Linked DNA regions of Homo sapiens: all the other regions are reported to be linked to region 3. The links are microRNA targets in miRTarBase. Many come from high-throughput screens and were not tested one by one. Region 3 holds a microRNA gene; each other region holds the end of a gene's coding sequence.

What was found. Region 3 holds the annotated microRNA hsa-miR-6862-3p (CCUCACCCAGCUCUCUGGCCCUCU, at 1,408-1,431, shown strand). A microRNA usually pairs through its seed, bases 2 to 8, with sites in the 3' UTR of a target mRNA and lowers its output. Matches are read on the target gene's strand: a 7mer-m8 pairs with bases 2 to 8, a 7mer-A1 pairs with bases 2 to 7 and ends in A, and an 8mer does both.
Region 1: miRTarBase lists CELF1 as a target of hsa-miR-6862-3p. Seed matches in the 3' UTR shown: 7mer-A1 at 3,264-3,270.
Region 2: the mRNA of NPEPPS is a reported target of hsa-miR-6862-3p. Seed matches in the 3' UTR shown: 7mer-A1 at 2,661-2,667.

What each region holds. Positions count from the first base shown.
Region 1 is chr11:47,468,756-47,472,948 of GRCh38, reverse strand. CELF1 (CUGBP Elav-like family member 1) reads left to right here. Exons shown (of 15, transcript NM_001376376.1): 15 at 592-4,193. The coding sequence ends at 719. Among named protein-coding and RNA genes, the nearest start is that of RAPSN, 22 kb to the right of the region's middle.
Region 2 is chr17:47,621,269-47,625,428 of GRCh38, reverse strand. It overlaps NPEPPS (aminopeptidase puromycin sensitive), which reads right to left. Exons shown (of 23, transcript NM_006310.4): 23 at 2,153-3,661. The coding sequence ends at 3,509. KPNB1-DT (KPNB1 divergent transcript) reads left to right here. Exons shown (of 4, transcript NR_171700.1): 4 at 3,342-3,902. Among named protein-coding and RNA genes, the nearest start is that of KPNB1-DT, 26 kb to the left of the region's middle.
Region 3 is chr16:28,722,889-28,727,081 of GRCh38, forward strand. MIR6862-2 (microRNA 6862-2) reads left to right here and starts at 1,364; the gene lies at 1,364-1,433. It overlaps EIF3C (eukaryotic translation initiation factor 3 subunit C), which reads left to right. Exons shown (of 21, transcript NM_003752.5): 9 at 276-435; 10 at 560-663; 11 at 1,434-1,575; 12 at 1,770-1,895; 13 at 2,031-2,124; 14 at 3,717-3,907; 15 at 4,133-4,193.

The DNA of each region.
Region 1 (4,193 bases), not on the chromosome of region 3:
TTGAGCCCCAGTTTCTCATTGCTGTAGTGGAGGTAAGGATTTCTACCCACACTGTTGCTCCAGAGAGAAAAATAATATATGGAAAATGGTTTGCAAAAAAACCTTTAAACAGTCCAGGTTTGTGCCTGTAAGTCCCAGTACTTGGGGAGGCCAAGGCAGGAGGATCGCTTGAGCCTAGGAGTTCGAGACCAGCCTGAGCAACAGAGTGAGACCTCATGGCTACAAAAAATTAGTCAGACGTGGTGGCGTGTACCTGTGTTCCCAGCTACTTGAGGCTGAGGTGAGAGGATCACCTGAGCCCAGGAGGCCAAGGTTGCAGTGAACCATGGTCACACCACTGTACTCCACCCTGGGTGACAGAGCAAGACCCTGTCTCAAGAAAAAGAAAAAAACCTTTAAATTACCATGTAGCTGTTAAGTGGTACTATTAAGAACCTAATTTATTTCGTATGACATAATGTCCAGATTTCTTGTCCCTGCTGAATAAAATTGGGATTTGAGATGAAGCACATAAGGTATCTTGCATAAGGAGGACTGAGAATCTCCTTGCCTCATTATGTCCCTCACCTAGGTTTCTGCTTGGACACACAGGTTTTGTAAGTTACGACAATCCTGTTTCGGCCCAAGCTGCCATCCAGTCCATGAACGGCTTTCAGATTGGCATGAAGCGGCTTAAAGTGCAGCTCAAACGTTCGAAGAATGACAGCAAGCCCTACTGAGCGTGCTCCCCTCTGAGACTGGAGTGAGAGGGTCTTCTGGTAAGTGGGGGAGGAGCACCCTTAATGATTCGAAGCCCTGAGGCTGTGTGTTGACAGCCCTGGACCCTGATCCCTGCCACTCTCGCAGGCACAGCTTGCCCTGAAGACTCGGCTACTGCCTTCTGTGGGAGTTTCGCTTCGTACAGAGGACAAGTTTGTGCTTTGGTTTCCAGTGTTTTACTTTGGAGTTTAGGTGCCATATCCTGAGGTTTTTTTTGTTTTTGTTTTTGTTTCTCCTTTATTTAAAGTTTGCTGTGTTTGTAACCAGTGTGTGTTGAGAAGGACCAACACCAAACCACCCTGGGGAAGGGGGACAGGGAAACATTTAACACAGACGATGATCAGGATTTGCCCCAAACCACCCCAAGAGAGAGGACTGAGTGGAACAAAAAAGTGACCCCCAGAACCTCTCTTAGTGTGAGGGTGGGTAGAATGAGAACTGACACCTGGGAGCTGTGGGGAGCAGAGCGGCTTTGGGGAAGAGTGGAGTGACTAGACACCTAATGCCCTGGCAGCTGGAGACTCAAACTCCTGTACAGCTACCTTCTGGGAAATAGTTTTTGACACCTATTTTTCAGATTCTTGTCCGGAATTTCTGCTGCTCTTTTCAAAAAAGGGCATTAACAATTCTCTGGAAATAAAGCACCTGTTAGCCTGACATATGCAAAAAGCAGGGCGGCATCACCCATTACGAGCTCCCCCAGCCAGCAGTCAGTATTGGATTGGCCTTGCCTGGCTGGTGGCAGTTTGGGAGAAACAGCCAAAGAGGTTAGTTTATTTCAACACCAAATTAGACCATGGCCCATTTCCAACGGGTCTCTTTAAAGGCCTCTATGGAATACATTGCCTGGTTTCCTTCTTTGCAGTTCACCACAGCAAGGAATGTCACCTCCATCCCAAGCCACCATTTTCTCATGAAGGCAAATCCAAGAAGGGCTTGCAGTTCTTGCTGAAGGGGGTACCATTTGTGGGCAGAGTGATCAATACCATCTAGTTGGGGGAGGAGGAGCTTATTTCTTGGTGTACTTGAATCAGAAGGTCCCTGCAAGCCAGTATGCTTCATTTGCCAGTGGCCAGAAATTCTCCCTTGCCTCCTTGATTGAGGTGTCCCAGATGTAGTATTCCCACAGGGGTCTGGCAGGCCCCTCCTGTAACCACTCCAGTCACATTTTCTGCTCTTGAGGCAGAGGTGACATCAGGACGTTTACAGCCTCCACATGAATTGAGTGTTCATTTACCTCAGTATTACCGTGTTCATTTTTGTCCTCGTGCTACAGTTAGCTCCCTGCCGCCTCTTGCAGGTCTTACTTCAGCTCTTGCCTGTGACCCACACAGCTTCTGGGCTCTGCCTCTGCTCTAAGAAGTGCTGTGGGGGTAGAGAACCAGGAAGGACATGCTGTTGGGAATGTACACCTGGGCAGAGGTGGCCCTGTTAAGATGTGACTGTAGCCACAGCCAGGGATGGGATCCCTGGGTCTCTGGAATCTGAAACCTCAACAAATACCAGTCTTGACCCCTAGCAGCAGAGATAAGAATAAAGGGGTTGGTTTGCTATTAAGTCAGATGGGGGCTCTCTCCTTGTCATGCTGTCCCTGTGGGTAACAGACAGGGATTGACCATCTTACTGTTGTACAGGTAGCTGGTGGTGTTGGATTATCCCATTGAAGCTGGGACAGCTGTTCCTTTCTCATAGTGATAACTTGGGTCTGTTGTCCTCTAAGGAACGTGAAACATACACTTCTTAAGCTGAACCACGTAAACTTGAAATTCTGCGCACTGGGAGAAATGTGTCCTGTGTTTCAAAGGATAAAACTGTTCTAAAGGCTTCCAGGGTCATGATGGGATTTTTTAAATAAATGCAAAAAATAAAAATAAAAAAGAAAAAAGAAAACAAAAAAAAAAAAGAAAAAAATGCTAGGTTGGGGAGGCGCTGTTCTGAATCCCAACCGGCTGGAACCAAGAATGTCGTTTCTATTTTTATAGAAGTTTTATACAGCTCCGGGGTGGAGAATATTTATTACCTAAATTATATCTCTGGAAAAGGCCAGGATTTTGTAGAATCCAGAATGTGATTGTTATACACACAGGGTGCTGTGTATGATTGAAACTACTGACTTTCTGTGGCCCGTTTGCAGCCCAGCTAACCTGCCCAAGGGGAAGGTGTTAATGCTGTGAATTGGCAGAGGAGAGAGCTGTGCTCCATAGGGTGCTGCCGGTGCTGTGCTCCCTAGCCTTCTGTTCTGTCTTCCTCCTTAGCCAGAACGCCACTCCCTTCCCACATCCCCTTCTTCTCTCCGCCTTCCCCCATCTCACCATTATTTGTCCATGGATTTGTCCTGGGCTCTGGGACCTTATGAAACCCCTTTCCTAATGACATAAGAGGCCAAGGTGCAATCCACCCACCTTTGATACCAGACCCTGAGGGCTTCATACCTGCTGATGGGTTTTCTTTTCTAAAAGGAATGCTCGCCCCAGCAGGGTCCTGGGCTGCTTGAGCAGCCAGCTGGTGAGACCATGCACTTCTCTGTTCTCTCCTCCCCCTGCCCAGTGAGTTAGCACAGCAGTAGCACTGCCCTTGAGCACAGTTCTTTCCCCAGGCCAAAGATGGTTTTGTGAAGAAGCTGCTCCCCTACAAGTCTCACGTGTGAAAGGGCTCAGCTCAGAGTGGAGACTCGCTGTCAAGTCTTAAGCAATCCTTTTCTGTTGTGTGAAGGTTTCACTTACAATGTGTTTTCTGCTGTAGTTTTGTTTCTTACTTGGGTTACATCATGAAATTGATTTGCCTTGAATGCAGCCAGACCACTGTCTCCTGGGTTCCCCTTGAGTGGCCAGGGCCTGGATGGAAGCTAAGAGCTTGGATTTCTGGGAACAAAGGGCCATCCCCATAAGATTGAGCAGAAATTCTGGTCCTCTTCCCTGAAAAATTTTCCCCACCCCAGCCAGCATCTTCTGCTTCCCCTTGGGTTGTGACCAGGGAGTGGGGAGAGAGGCTGAGGCTCTGCTCCCCTGGAGACCTTCTCTTAGGAGTTGGGTGCTTCATGGAAAATCCAAGCCTTAGGTTCCCTTCTGTCTCTGGCAATTAGATGTGTTCTTGGTGTCCTCCATGTCCTTTTTGACTTTTCCCTGTGTCCATTGTTAGCATGTGCAAAAGTTCCCTGTCATTACCCAACCCCTGCCCGCCCACCTCATTTCAGGGCTGTACACACAGTGAGTGTTCCTGTTCTCTCTCTCTTTGTTTGGATGTATTGCTCTGTGTAACTCAGTGGGTCTCCCTCTTTCTGGTTTGTTTTTTTTTCTAGATTCCTGCCGTTTGTTCATCGTTGTGCCTAAAGCATGTCGATGTGGCGTCAAGTACATCGTCCAAATCCCTGTCTCTTCAGCTTCTCTGATGCTTGAACTCTCACCTTTGACCTTGTGTTGACCTTTGATGCTGAT
Region 2 (4,160 bases), not on the chromosome of region 3:
ATTCTGGAAACTTTTTGGGTTATAGAATTTGAAGAATCTATTTAGAGCTATAGAACTCCTCTTAATCCTCCCCAAGTTGTACTCAACAGATTTATTCCTTGCTCCCTAAAACCTATCCTTAGAAATTGCAAGTTGAGAATTCACCCCACCACTGCCCACTGTTCCAAAAAGCTTTACTGAATCTCATTAATGAAAAATAATGTAAAACTCTCCATAGGAGGCATTAACATACTTGTTTCTTCCAAACCTTCTGATTTCCACTAAAATTTGTAACCAAAATATATTAGGAAAAAGTAATTAAGCTTTAATGCTATTGCCTGGCCCAGTCTAACTATGATCTTTTAATTGTGGAGACATGGCAGTTCCCTGAAAGACCACAGCCTTTGGAGACTAGCAAACCTGGCTTGATCACTGGTTGATAGTTATTTTGCTGTATTAATTTGCCTTACTTTTCTGAGTCTGCATTCTCATCTGTAAAATGGGTGTATGACTTATGATAGGGAGCTATTTGAAAAACAAAACATCTGACACAGAAAAGGCTGAATTAAAACCTTTAGAGACCCAAAGCAGCAGGGCTATTGTGCCCAAATCACTCAAGGTATTGGTAGGAAAGAACACAAACTGAGGAAGGTTTAATAAAGGACTATTTACAGAGACATGGACAGAGTGCAGGAAAATCAATGAAGAATAATGGCGTAATCCAGGGCTGGTAACTAAGTCCTTTTTTTTTTTTTTTTTTTTTTTTTTGAGACAGTCTCGCTCTGTTGCCCAGGCTGGAGTGCAGTGGCACGATCTCAGCTCACTGCAGCCTCTGCCTCCCAGGCTCAAGCAATTCTTGTGCCTCAGCCTCTCAAGTAGCTGGTATTACAGACATGCATCACCATGCTTGGCCAATTTTTGTATTTTTAGTAGAAACAGGGGTTTCATCATGTTGACCAGGCTGGTCTGAAACTCCTGACCTCAGGTGATCTGTCTACCTCAGCCTCCCAAAGTGCTGGGATTACAGGTGTGAGTGACCGCACCCAGCTTGAGTCTTCTTTTTTTTTTTTGGAGACGGAGTTTCACTCTTGTTGCCCAGGCTGGAGTGCAGTGGCACGGTCTTGGCTCACTGCAACCTCTGCCTCCTGGGTTCTGGCAATTCTCCTGCCTCAGCCTCCCGAGTAGCTGGGATTACAGGCATGCGCCACCATGCCCAGCTAATTTTTGTATTTTTAGTAGAGACGGGGTTTCACCATGTTGGCCAGGCTGGTCTTGAATTCTTGACCTCAGGTGATCTACCCGTCTCGGCCTCCCAAAGTGCTGGGATTACAAGCGTGAGCCACCGCACCCAGCTCTCGAGTTCTCCTTTCTTTCTATTCCTAGATGTGAAGGAGCAAAGAGAAGGAGCCAGAAGCTAGAGGGGGCTGCTTGGTAAGAGCTGTGGTCTTTGCTAAAGGGACACAGACAACCCATGTGACCTGGCAATGAGAAAGCCAGAGTACTCTGACCATCTCTTCCTTATATCTTCTCATCTTCTTTGGATATTAATAATTGGATAAACAGAAGCTGAAGTCAGAGGGCAAGGGAGCCATTCATGCTGCAGTCCATGTGGGTCAGCACCCGCTGGGGTCCAGAGTGGGATGAAGAGGGGTTCTGAAAGGCAAATGGAAGACATCTAGTATAACCTCTCCCTGAACGTAATTCAAACTACTTAACTATTATTACAGACAAAAATCACATGTATGCTGAAAGTAAAATAACCTGTTTCCAGAATTTCTGATTGCAAAATTCTGAGTTCTTCAATTAAACCTGCATTTTTCTCAGTCTTTTTGGTGCCCCTGCTTCACTGGTGCCTTAAGAACATTTGAGAGCCTAAGGGCAGCCCTGAGCATGGTGCCTGAACTAGGGTGCCTCAAAACTAGGGACTGAGGAAGTCTCAAGTTCATTCCTGAATGCTGACTATAAGAGTCTCTGAGAGAGTTTTGAGAATGTAGAACTGATTTAGAATGAATCTCAGGATTTTTCTGTTAAGATCTATAAATTAGGAATTAAGGAACTGGATTTTTTTTGAATTTGAAAAATCCTATGATAGTATAACTTTGCATAAGCCTACTGAATGATAGGAAAGTTTTTAGTTTCTTATCAAAGAAAGAGAATAAAGTGAATCAGGACATCAGTTTCACATTGACATTTTTATTAACGCCAACTGTTTTTTAATTATTTTTTTAAAACAATAGCACAAAAATGTTTCAAGGAAGCAGTCTCACAATCTGATGACCTTCTGAAATACCGTTAAGCCACACCAAATATGAATTTCTGTTAATAACACAAAATATTTTTTTAAGAAAAAAAGAAAAAAAAGGTAGGGAAAGAAGAAGGGAATGAGATTTAGATTTAAAACTCATTGGATTAAATAGGTGAGGCTTATTAGGATATACTGTTGAAGCAAACAGTGGCACACACAGGCTTACAGTCTTTGTTTTTTAAACCAGTTACCACTAATGTATTAAGCCCTGCAGCAGTTACCACTGACTTCTCGCACGCATAAAATGAACCGGGAGAAGCCAGTGTTGATACTGTTGTGAAGAGGTTCAAGAGCTGGCTTTTCAGACAACTAAGACCATTTTTAGCAGAATAACTCCTTCAGAAAGGCCTGGCTGAAGATCTTTTTATTTCTATTGTCTCACCTATATAAATTTCAGGGTTCTTATAAGTCATCTTTAAAAAGAAAAAAATAATGTATATCAGTTTCTCTTATTTAATGTGGCTATGAAAGATGTTTCCTTATTATTTCTTCATCTCTAAGAAGGACACCAGGGAATGGGGGTTGGGGGTGGAACTAAAGGGAGGAAAAAAACCAGAACAGGGTAGGTTTTTGTTTTTTGCTTTTTGTTTTTTTTTGGCCAAGGGGTCGGTCACACAGAAGGGAAGGCAAGGAGGAAAACTAAACTACAATCCTTGGTTCAGATTGAGTTATGCAGGAATATATCTTCCTGATCAGTCCCCGTGCCAAAAAAAAAAAAAGCCACTTGGAATTATGCACTGACTCCAACTATGTGATACCAGCTATCAGCCTTTTGTGTTTAACCATTCCCAGAAATGGACACCACCCTTGGCTTTATAGGCTCCTTGCAGAACCCACTTCACAAAAATGCTCTTCACCAAGAAGCCTCTAGTTTCCTTTTGGTAGGTTATAAAAACAGAACATCTGTCATTAACAGTAGAGTGTTAAATACTTTTAACCACTGACAAGGCTTCAGAAAGTTTCACAGTTTCGTTATGCTCTATTTTATTACTATCATATTTACATTTTTATTTTTTATTTATTTTTTGCTGAATTGCTGATTTTCCTTTTTCAATAGAATTTAATTCTGGAGTGTGAGCAGGAACCAGTTAACTACATTCATTGTCCAACCCCCACTGGTTTGAAAGAAGACTCCAAATTCTTGGCATATGAATCAGCTGTTCGGTAGCTCCACCTTATCCCTGCAGCGAAGCAGCAGAACCGCCAATGGCGGCACCTCAGGATTCACACTGTGGGTGGTGAGGCCTTCCGCTGAAGGAGGTACTGGTGGATGCTCTCAGCATCTCGCTTTAGCCAGGCAGCATTCAGCAGAATATTTTCACAACACTGCTGGATGGTACGCTCAGCTGAAGGAGCTGGGTGACTCTCGAAGAAAGCCTGGTATAAAACAACCCAGAATGCAGGATCATTACTAGCAATAAGAAGTTAATATTACAGGTTATGAAAAAATACCCACTGGTCTATATGAAGGATGCATAATCTTCAGGCATGAGAATTTACCACTGCCACCCTCAGGCTAAAAGAAAACAAGCAACTCCTTGGACCTGCATATAGGAATTCTCCCCTTAATTATATGCTTAACAACCTAATCAAAAGTTAATAAAGAGACAGAACCTACTGCCTTTCTTTTAGGCTAATTGTGTAGTGGTAAATATAGTCTTTGGAATGAAGACTTGGAACCTGAATCCAGGCTTAGTCATGTACTAGCTTGTGACTGTGAGAAAATTAACTGCTCTAAGTCTCAGTTTTCTCAACTATGAGAAAATATCTACTCCAGAAGATTAAAGAGACAATCCATATAAACATTTGACAAAATACCTAGCACAGAGTACTTAAGGATTCAACACATTTTGGCTGCTTCAAATAAAGATTAATT
Region 3 (4,193 bases):
CATGTTGCCCAGGCTGGTCTTGGATTCCTGACGTCAAGTGATCTACCATGCTTAGCTGACAGGTTGTTTCTATTAATATGTCTACAGTGGCCTGGTTAGTACTCTGTCTTGTTAGAGATGGCTATGGTTATGGTTCACTGTGCCCTCTAGGTCATTGTTGTAGAGCATAACTTGGACCCAGGAGCTGCTGGAGGAAAAGAGGAAGTTGATGGGAGGAAGAAGCCTTAGAGGTGGGGAGGGGCTGATCTGTCATCTTCTCCCATGTCTGTCGGCAGGGCACCCACCACAGATGAGGACAAGAAGGCAGCCGAGAAGAAACGGGAGGACAAAGCTAAGAAGAAGCACGACAGGAAATCCAAGCGCCTGGATGAGGAGGAGGAGGACAATGAAGGCGGGGAGTGGGAAAGGGTCCGGGGCGGAGTGCCGTTGGTTAAGGTGAGGGTTTCAGAGGTAAAATGAATTGGGGAACAGTTTGGGAGGACATAAAGGTCCCCTTGTGGGGAAAAGGCAAGGACAGTTTCCCGCTGGCATGTACATGACGGGATATGTGCTGATACAGGAGAAGCCAAAAATGTTTGCCAAGGGAACTGAGATCACCCATGCTGTTGTTATCAAGAAACTGAATGAGATCCTACAGGCACGAGGCAAGAAGGGAACTGATCGGTAAGATTCGTGGGCCTGGGCAGTGGGATTGCAGGGTGGCAGAGGGTGGAGGTTGGGGGAAGGGATTGTTGGGAGGGTCTGTGTGTGGCTGTAGTAGAGGGAATTGTATGCTTGGGGCATCCCCGTCCATTATCTGCTGTTTACTCTTCTTGTGACTTAAAACCAATCACTTAACGTTTTGGATCTGTTTTCCCATCTATACAATGAGATAATGTTCTCCTCTTTTTTTTTTTTTTTTTTTTTTTGTTTGAGATGGAGTCTCGTTGTTGCCCAGGCTGGAGTGCACTGGCGCGATCTCGGCTCACTGCAACCTTTTTGCCTTCTGGGTTCAACCGATTCTCCTGCCTCAGCCTCCTGAGTAGCTGGGATTACAGGAACCCGCCACCATCCCTGGCTGATTTTGTACTTTTAGTAGAGATGGGGTTTCACCATGTCTCGAACTCCTGACTTCAAGTGATCCGCCTGCCTCAGCCTCCCAAAGTGCTGGGATTACAGGCATGAGCTACCACACCTGGCTTTTTTTTTTTTTAAGATTAAAAAAGTAAAAGAGTGTTTACCTTCTTTAGTTATTAGGTAACAGAGGATGGTGGTAGGTGTGAAGCATTTCACAGCATTCCAGGATGGTTGGGATTATTGTTGCTTCTGTTTGGAATTTATAAAGGAGAAGCAGGGATATGGGTGATGAGGAGGGCGCGTTATCCGAAGCGGGCATGCTGGGAGAGACTTTGTGATTTGTCTCCAAAGCCTCACCCAGCTCTCTGGCCCTCTAGTGCTGCCCAGATTGAGCTGCTGCAACTGCTGGTTCAGATTGCAGCGGAAAACAACCTGGGAGAGGGCGTCATTGTCAAGATCAAGTTCAATATCATCGCCTCTCTCTATGACTACAACCCCAACCTGGCAACCTACATGAAGGTGAGAGCAGTGAAGAGGCTCATCTCAGGGCATCGCTGGTGGGTTGGGGGAAGAAGGTACCTAGCATCTTAAGACTCAGGGGCTATGGAGGCAGTCTTGGTGGTGGAAGGCCCCATGATTCCTGCTGAAGGGGGAGGCATCCGCTTACTCTACCTTCACACCTCTGACTCTGATGTGGCCTGAAATCTTGGCAGCCAGAGATGTGGGGGAAGTGCCTGGACTGCATCAATGAGCTGATGGATATCCTGTTTGCAAATCCCAACATTTTTGTTGGAGAGAATATTCTGGAAGAGAGTGAGAACCTGCACAACGCTGACCAGGTAAAGGGAGGAGTTGGCAGGATAACTGGAGGTGTGTATTTTATGCTTTGGGAAGGCTCAGTGGGACCCGAGGGTTGAGGTTTGAGACTGAGATCTGGGCTAATTTGTTGACTCCTCCTTCGCCTTCCTTTTCAGCCACTGCGTGTCCGTGGCTGCATCCTAACTCTGGTGGAACGAATGGATGAAGAATTTACCAAAATAATGCAAAATACTGACCCTCACTCCCAAGGTGAGCCTGAGCAAGCGTGGGCTTTGCTGAGAGGAAAATTGTGGGGAATATTACTAGGTTTAGAGCTTTGTGAGGATTATACTAAGTCAGAGTGCTTGAAAAGCCAGCCTTTCAACTTACCTAGCGTTCACACGGAAGGGCCTGATGAGATGCTGGCTCCCAGTCCCATCGTTTCTGATTCCATAGGTCTGAGTGGGGCTTGAGAACCTGCACCTCTAGCCTGCTCCCAGGTTGCTGGTCTCAGGGCTATACTTTGAGAACCTTTGGGGTAAGGCATCTATTCACTTCTCTTGTTTAGCTTGGATGAGAGGCATTGGGGTGTGAAAGTGCAGCATAGTTTACTCAGTAAAAGTGTGAATGTGCCCATCAAGTCAAGGGTGTAGTGATTAACAAGGCAGCCAAAAGCTTACCTTTTGTGCTGGATGGAGAAAGGCAGATTGAAAAATAATAGTAGTAAGATATGGCCGGGCGTGGTGGCTCACGTCTGTAATTCCAGCTCTTTGGGAGGCCGAAGCAGGCGGATCCCGAGGTCAGGAGATTGAGACCATCCTGGCTAACACGGTGAAACCCCATCTCTACTAAAAATACACACACACACACAAAAAAAATTAGGCGTGGTGCTGGGCGCCTATAGTCCCAGCTACTTGGGAGGCTGAGGCAGGAGAATGGCATGAACCCAGGAGGCGGAACTTGCAGTGAGCCGAGATCACACCCCTGCACTCCAGCCTGGGCGACAGAGCAAGACTCCATCTCAAAAAAAAAAAAAAATAGTATGATGTTAAGATAATTCTGGGCCAGGTGCAGTGGCTCACGCCTGTAATCCTAGCACTTTGGGAGGCCGAGGTGTGTGAATCACCTGAGGTCAGGAGTTTGAGACCAGCCTGGCCAACGTGGCAAAACCCTGGCTCTACTCAAATACAAAAATTAGCCAGGCATGGTGGCAGGTGCCTGTAAATCCCAGCTATGTGGGAGGCTGAGGCAGGAGAATCCCTTGAGCCCAGCGGGCCAGAGGTTGCAATGAGCTGAGATCACACCACTGCACTCCAGCCTGGGCGAAAGAGTGAAACTCCATCTCAAAAAATAATAATAATAATTCTAGATGATATAAAGTTCAGAGTTAAACTAGGGCCCTGTGGTAAGAAGTGGCTGGAGGGGTGGCTGCTGTAGCTAACAGCTGGAGAAAGCACCCTTAAGTAGGGACCACCTGAGGTGAGATCCAATGAGGAGGAGTTAGGGGAAGAATCAGCTGAAGACAGCGCCTGACAGGAGGAGCAGAGAGCGAGCTTGATGTTCCAGGAGTAAAAAGGCCAGTGGGACTCCAGCACAGGAAGCCAGAGGGAGAATCGTGGGAGACCAGGCAAGGGCCAGGCCTGGCAGACCCTTATTGGCAGAGGTTGGCAGTTGGGATTTTTTTCCTAAGCTGTGGGACTGGAAGGTTCTGGGTCCTGGGAGTGGGAGATGGCCTTTCTGGGGCACACTGACTAGACTTTTCTGACGGGTGCAGAAGAGGGACGGGTTGATTGGAATGAGTGGGGACAGATGGGAAAGCCTGGCTGCCCAGCTGAGACAAGGGTGGGTGCTCTCCCTGCCAGAGTACGTGGAGCACTTGAAGGATGAGGCCCAGGTGTGTGCCATCATCGAGCGTGTGCAGCGCTACCTGGAGGAGAAGGGCACTACCGAGGAGGTCTGCCGCATCTACCTGCTGCGCATCCTGCACACCTACTACAAGTTTGATTACAAGGCCCATCAGCGACAGCTGACCCCGCCTGAGGGCTCCTCAAAGGTGAGCACGTGGCAGTCATGGCAGAGGGGAATGGGTGTGTCCACCTGTCCTCCACTTCTGTCAGGACTTGACAGCAAATCTGTTACTCTCTAGACTTCCGCAGGTGGAGCAGGGAGGGAAACTGAGGTATTAGAATGAGACTGGATAGAGTCTCATCTTTAGTTGCTAGAGCCTGTGCCTTTTAAAGCTGGATCTCCTTTGCAAATAACCTCCCTTCCTCCCCAGTCTGAGCAAGACCAGGCAGAAAATGAGGGCGAGGACTCGGCTGTGTTGATGGAGAGACTGT